Homo sapiens: one gene and its partner. The protein of the gene in region 2 interacts with the protein of the main gene of each other region in a biochemical or structural test. Each region holds a gene or a part of one and is shown on either strand. Other genes may lie near its edges.

What was found.
Region 1: the proteins of ATRNL1 (region 2) and PARD3B interact in a test that uses a peptide from one of them, tested with the Homo sapiens proteins (one large-scale study listed by IntAct).

The regions. Positions count from the first base shown.
Region 1 is NC_000002.12:204,543,831-204,547,579, reverse strand, and holds the start of PARD3B (partitioning defective 3 homolog B), read right to left. Parts: upstream 2,106-3,749; 5' UTR 1,581-2,105; coding exon 1,461-1,580; intron 1-1,460. UniProt on the Homo sapiens protein: Putative adapter protein involved in asymmetrical cell division and cell polarization processes. May play a role in the formation of epithelial tight junctions.
Region 2 is NC_000010.11:115,096,251-115,099,899, forward strand, and holds part of ATRNL1 (attractin-like protein 1 isoform 1 precursor), read left to right. Parts: intron 1-394; exon of another isoform or gene 395-589; intron 590-3,649. UniProt on the Homo sapiens protein: May play a role in melanocortin signaling pathways that regulate energy homeostasis.

The DNA of each region.
Region 1 (3,749 bases), on a different chromosome or scaffold from region 2:
ATAGACAATTGGTTACTTGTTTAAACATCAGTTAACTGAATTACATGATTTAAACAGCAAACACTATTTTAACAATGGCAAACACATATGCACGTGCACACACACACATAACATTGCAGTTGATTTTCACACAGCTTTATAAACCACTTTAATTTTTTCCCTCCTCCACCTCAATTCCATCAGTAAAGAGTTCATCTTTAGGGGTTATATTTAATATATTAATAGACCTTTCATTGTACTCTCCTCCAGTTCTTGAGTATCCAAAGCAATATGCACATGTATCTGTCCAGAGCTGAATTTTTTTTCTGTATAATAATTCTTCATGGAGGCAAAGAAGGTGCAAGTATTTTCTTAAACCCCTAAGCTATACACTTGTAAGAAACAATTACTTTTATGCTTTGGATAACCGATAAGAAGTTAAAAGAAATTAAAACTTACGTTTTTCCATCACTAGATTGACCAACCCACTATTTTAGTCACATGGCACGAGACCAAATATTAAGAGAACCATTGGCCGCTAAAACAAGAATTTGTGACTTGCCCTGTTTGAGGAGCATTTGGGACATACAAAATGTTCCATGTGAAGATTCAAAAAATTAAAAGGTTATTCAATGCCTTCCTTTAAAAGTTTCACTGAGGAAGTCCCAGAGGCCCAATGTTACCCAAATACTTGGCATAAGTTCTAGTGCCAGATATTTTCTCAACATGTATTGCACACTTAAAAAAAATTGTCACTTAATTTATACTTGTTCCTGACTTCAGCTACAGAGCTAGGAACGTCTTTCTCATTTTAATAGTCACTCAGGACCTGACAACAGCCCACACACATAGTAAATGGTCATAGAATCTGTGACATTAAACTGAAAACACTCAAAATGTAGACAGGTTGGCTAAGCAAACAGCATGCTCCCACCTGTGTTCCTGCCCAAGTCACTGAGACAGGGCAGCTCACAAGGCTGAAACTCCAAAGGCCCCATCAGTTGTAACTTCCGAGTATGTGTCACTTGCACAATCAACTTTCTAACTCCAAGGAGCCTAAGTGAGGCGGGCCTTAATGGGTCAAAAATCACACTTAGGTGAGCAGCACCTTTTAAGACGTTCCCTCAAACAAGTTCTAAACCAGTGGTTCTCAAACTTCAGTGGGCATTCCAATCACCTGGGGATCTCGTTAAAGAGCAGATCCTGAGTCGGTGGGTTTGGAGAACTGCCCATATTGGGCAGTTCTAAGAAGCTCCCAAGAGATTCCAATGCTGCAGGTCCACTCACGACCCTCGGAGCTCAAGGCCCACAAACACCCAAAGACACCCACATCACTGATATTAGCAATAGACAACAGCTGCAGCTACAGGCAGTGCCCCATAATCCCCTGGGTTTTCTGCATCCCCTGAGTGTCGCCACCGGGTCGCACCTGGCAGGTGCCTTGGCTGCAGCCGCGCCCCACTCCTCCGCGCCGCGCTCACCTTCTCCCGGGTCTTCAGGTACCGCTGCAGCGCCTGCTGGGTGAGCTCGCCGACGCGCAGCTGGCCCTCCTTGCAGGGCACCACGATGCCCGTCCTGCCGAAGCACACGGTCACTTTCATCCTGGCCCCCGGCGACCACGCCGGGCCGGGCCGAACAGGTGTCTGACCCCGCGGGCGCAGCCCCCACTCTCGGAGGACGCCCGGGGCGGGTGGGCCCAGAGACCCGGGGCGCCGCTCCCCGGAACACCCTGAGGCCCGGAGGCTCGCGGCAGCGCCCCTTCCACCTGGCCAGGCGGCAGGTGGCGGGAATCGGGGAGGGGCGGCCGCGGAAAGGGGTTACCTCCCAGGTGCCCGGCGGCCCGGGACGCGGCAGCTCCGCGGCACCGGCTCCTCCTCCTCCTCCTCCCGCTCCTACTCCTGCCCGGCCCAGGCGGCTGCTCCGCGCCCACCAAAGCGAAACTGCCGGCCCTGCCCTGTCGCTGGTCCTGGCCCTGGCCCTGGCCCTGGCGGCGTTGGCAGGGCCGGCCCCAAGCCGGGGGCTGGAGTGGGCGGCGGCGGCGGCGGCGCACGGGGCCAGAGTTGGGAGGAAACTTTTGCGCCGGCTCCCAACTCCTCTGCGGCGCCCGCGCTCTGGGCTCCTGCGGTCCCGGCGACGGCCTGGGCCCGGCTCTTAAAGGGGCCGCGGCGCTCCCGGGCCCCGCCGCACGCTGGGCGACGACGTGCCCCGGCCCTGCGGGCCAGTAACTGGAGCCCGGGAGCCTCGTCTCGTCACCTGGGTCTCTCCCTGGCTCTCTCCCTCTCGCACGCATGCACACGGAGCTCTGGGGAGTTGTAAGGGGACCTGAGGGCTACACGCTCGAGGATTGAAACCGGATCTCAGAAAGAACACCCGAGGGAAGAGCGAGGAGACTGCAGAGCTGCGCCCTTCACAGGAGGGGACTGCAGCAAGATGCAAAAGGAGCCCAGGAGCAGGTGCTTCTAGTCACGCCCACCAAAAACACCCAAGGGGCGAGGCTGCCGGGTGCGGAGATGCAGGAGTGCCCCGAGGGCCTGTTAGGAACTCGCCTTAAGCACAGCCCGTGCCGCTGCCATCAGGAGCCCTGGGATAGCAGAGCTGAAGCGAACCTTGGAGAGAACGCGCCAGTGGAAACTTTTCCTTTTACAGACCCTCGAGGACACTGAGTATTTGGCCAAAGGTCACACCCAAGACCCAGATATGATCGCGTGTGTTGACACATAGCCTTCTGGAATGCGACTACCGTTGTGCATTTTATTAGGAAAAAAAAAAGTTAACACCCTTAGGCTCATGATTTGGCAGGTGTGTATCCATCACCAATTGAAATGGGAATATGTGGGGGAAACCAACAAATTACGTTAGTTTCATTCTTAGCTCTCATGTAAATGAGCTCCTTTGAGCTTAACAACTACCCGGTAGGTAGATATTATTCTTCGCATCTTGTGCATCAAGAATGGTGCTCGGAGAGGTCAAGAGACTGAGCAGACCATGGTGTTAGTTCTGTTGAAAAGAACTCAGGTCTTCTGAGCTCAATCTCTGGTCTCTCCCTGCAGTTTTCTTAGCCATCCAGTTCATCCAGCAAGACCCTCAGGGCTGCATCATGTGTTTCTCTACAGAAGGATGTGCTCCTATGTGGACACACTTAAATTGAACGTGAATTGCCTAGGATGGTATGATAATGCAGAGGAGATTAAATTCATGGGTTTCAAGAGGTTTTTTAAAAAAATAAATTTTAGCTCATTCATACATTCAGTAAGTATATATTGGTTGTCTTCTATGTATAGAAAGTCAGTGGCAAACCAAGAGGATCACGTAAACCAAGTCCATTGTAATTTGGTTGTAAATCCAATACAAACTAATTTACATTTAAATAAACCAAAGACAGAATTGATCACCTCATAAAATCAGAAGATCCAGAGGGCACTCCATTGAGGCAAGGTTGAAAGCAGGAACTCAAACTATGTCCTCAGGGGCCAGCTAGCTCTGTCCAGCTCTTAGCTCTATCTGTTCCTCAGTGTGGTCTCCATTCTCAGGCCAGCTCTCTTCAAAGGAGACACTTTATCCTCTTTTTAGAGATGAGGAGCTGAGGCCAAAGGAAGTTAAATGATTTAGTTAAAATCTCATTCTTAGAAAGTAGCAGAGGCTGGCTTAAAACCCAGGTCATCTGATTCCAGAGTCTTCATCGTAACTGCTGTGCTGTTTCTTACATGAGAAGTACCAATGAGTGAATCAAACAAACAAATAGATACTGATGCCGTGCATTAATGTGTGGC
Region 2 (3,649 bases):
ACAAGCTATTAATTAGAGTAAATATAACTGGTGTAACGATCTGTGTTTTTATTATGTATACTCTTGGGGATAAAGAACACATTGGTATTTAATGTTAAAGAGAAGGATTATGTATAGTAGAAAAGAATTCTTCTTGGTAAAGTACATGCAAATAAACCTATGAAAGGTTTATTTGAAGATAGTAGCTTGTTTTACCTGGCATTTGAAGTAATAACACAGTGGGAAAGGCTTTAACTAGAAAATCTCACTTCACTAACTATCTTGAAAATCTTTTTCTAAACTGAAGGATAGCAACCTTACAAACAGACATTAAAAATGATTGATCAATCTTGGTAAGCAGGTGTCAAAATTAATTGGTTGGCTCCATGGTAACTTAGCTTTTTTTCTACTATAGGGATTTCGCCAGGGAATAAAAATGTTCTTCAAATGTTTCTTGAGGATAGAAGATTGATAGTTGGGGGAAGAAATGCAGAAGCAAATATAGTATCAAAAGTGGTACTTCAGTTCTCTTAGCATTGATTCCAGTCTTCTGTTTCCATTTGAAAAGAATAAAGCACTCAGAATAACAAGCCATTCCTTCCTTACACAGGTAAAACAAAAGGAACATTGATTTTTCACCCAAAGCTAGACTAAAGGACTTGGGATTGAGAATAGGAAAATATATTTGAAATATAATAATCAAAGATACAGACTCTAATTCAAGTTGTATTTATTTGAATAGTTCAGTGTAATGTTAAGCAAGAAAATATTCTGCTATAATCTATTTGAATGACGTTCTCTTTTAGAAGGGAGCCCTTGAGAATTAATTTTGTAGAGTAGAGATTTATATAAATTTATATAAATATAAAGAGTATTGCTCTTTATATTAGTCAAATATAAAGGGGTATATTTTTACCCCTCTTAGGTTAGTCAAATTTGGATACTTCATTTCACGCATTTAAAATGGAAGTATGCTGGGTGCCGTGGCTCAGGCCTGTAATCCCAGCACTTTGGGAGGCCGAGGTGGAAGGATCCCTTGAGCCCAGAAGTTTGAGACCAGTCTGGGCAAGATAGTGAGACCTCATCTCTACAAAAAATATTTTAAAAGTAGCTGGGCATGGTGGCACACACCTGTGGTCACAGCTACAAGAGAGAGTGAGGCGGAAGAATTCCTTGAGCTCAGGAGGTTGAGGCTGCAGTGAGCTGTAATCACGCCACTGCGCTCCAGCTTGGGTATCAGAGCGAGACTCTTCTTAAAAATTTATATATACATATATGAAGCATTCTATTTGTAGTGACAGCAAAATGAAGATGTAATGATATAATGTCAGGAATTAGGTTGTTATTATAGACAAAAACGGGCAGAATAAAGTGTGTAAACTCTTCCCCTAAGCTGTTAAAAATATATGCATATTGCCTGGCTTGGTGTCTCACGCCTGTAATCCCAACTCTTTGGGAGACCGAGGCGGGCGGATCATGAGGTCAGGAGATCGAGACCATCCTAGCTAACACAGTGAAACCCCGTCTCTACTAAAAATACAAAAATTAGCTGGGTGTGATGGCACGCACCTGTAGTCCCAGTTACTCAGGAGGCTGAGGCAGGAGAATCGCTTGAACCCAGGAGGCGGAGGTTGCAGTGAGCATAGGTCGCGCAACTGCACTCCAGCCTGGGCAACAGAGCGAGACTCCGTCTCAAAACAAAACAAAAATAAACAACAACAACAAAAAACAAATATATATATATGCATATGTAAATACATATATATTTGGAATCCTTTTTACTTGTAAGGAAACTGACAGTAATTATAAACTTAAACTGAATGTTCCCTGTCCCTAAGACTTCTTTATTTCAAAGTTTTATTTTAATGGATAATTTATATCCATGGATTATTTTTACATTATTAAAGTGTATAATCACACAGTAGGAATTTAAAATAATTTAAATTGAGTGTTTCTTAGATTCTAAATTGATAAGGTAAGTTACTTGTAGAAGCATAGTAGCATGGTTTTCAAGAACACGTGTCTGCATGATTTGGCCCCTTTAGCTGATTAGACTCAGGCCTCCTTTCCTCTGCCCTGACTGGCCTTTTGAAGTTCCTTGAAAGTGTCACATTCCTTTTGGCCTTAGTGCATTTTATACACGTAACTGTGAACTCTTTCCTCTCTGGTCTTTGCTTGGGTGATTACTGATCATCCTTCTAATCTTAGCTTAAATACTAGTTTCTTTTTTTTTTTTTTTTTTTTTTTTTTGAGACCGAGTCTGGCTCTGTCACCCAGGCTGGAGTGCAGTGGCGCAATCTCGGCTCACTGCAAGCTCCGCTTCCTGGGTTCACGCCATTCTCCTGCTTCAGCCTCCCGAGTAGCTGGGACTACAGGCGCCCGCCACTACGCCCGGCTAATTTTTTGTTTAGTAGAGACGGGGTATCACCGTGTTAGCCAGGATGGTCTCGATCTCCTGACCTCGTGATCCACCCGCCTCGGCCTCCTAAAGTGCTGGGATTACAGGCGTGAGCCACTGCGCCTGGCCACTTAAATACTAGTTTCTAAAGGAGGCTTGTCTGACTCTTCACACTAGGTTACCCCTTATATACTGCCCTAATAGCACTATTTTTCCTTCTTAGTATTGTCAAAAATGAGGTGTTTAATTATAATTTTGATAGTTATTTAAACAAAATTTTTAAGAGATTGAGGTATAATTGTCAAACAGCACAATTTAAAATGTACAATTTATTTAAATTATACAATTTGATAAGTTTTGTCATATGTATTTGCATCTGAAACTGTCACCACAATCAAAATCATAAAAATACCAATCACGCTAGAAAGTTTCCATGTGTTTCCTTTGTAAACCCTCCCTTTTCTAGTTGCCAATTCCTGTCCCAGGGCAACTATTGATCTGCTTTCTCTCACTATAGATTTGTTGGTATTTTCTAGAACTTTTTGTAAATAGAATCATACATTATATACTTCTTTTTTGTCTGGCTTCTTTCACACAGCGTGTTTATTTTGAGATTCATTCATGGTGTGTTAGTAGTTTATTCTACTGCCGAATAGTGTTCCAGTGTCTGGATACACCATAATTTGTTTATCCATTCAACTGCTGATGGACATTTGGATTGTTTCAAATTTTTGGCTGTTCCTTATAAAGCTGCTACGAAGTTTCATGTGGAAGCCTTTTTATCTTTGTATGGTCATATGCTTTCCTTTCTCTTGGGGAAATAACCTGAGAATGGCTGGATCATATGGGTAGATATATGTGTAACTGTTAAAGAAACCGACAAACTGTTTTCCAAAGTAGTTGTATCATTTATGTTCCCACCAGCAGTGAGTCAGTGTTCTATCTAGTTAATTTCACATCCATACCAATACTTGGTATGGTTAGTCTTTTAAATTTTTGTGATTCTAATAAGTGAATGGTATATTATTGGGTTTTAGTTTGCATTTCCCGAATTACTAATGATATTGAGTATCTTCTCATGTGCTTACTTGCCATCCGTATATCTTCTGTAATAGGCATTTATTCAAACCTTTTGCATGTTAAAAAAATTTTCTTACTGATTTTTGTGAGTTCTTTACATTTTCTGGATTACTAGCTTCTTATGAGGTATATCATTTGCATATATTTTCTACCAGTCTGCGGCTTGTCTATGAAAACAATGCAAAGAGAATG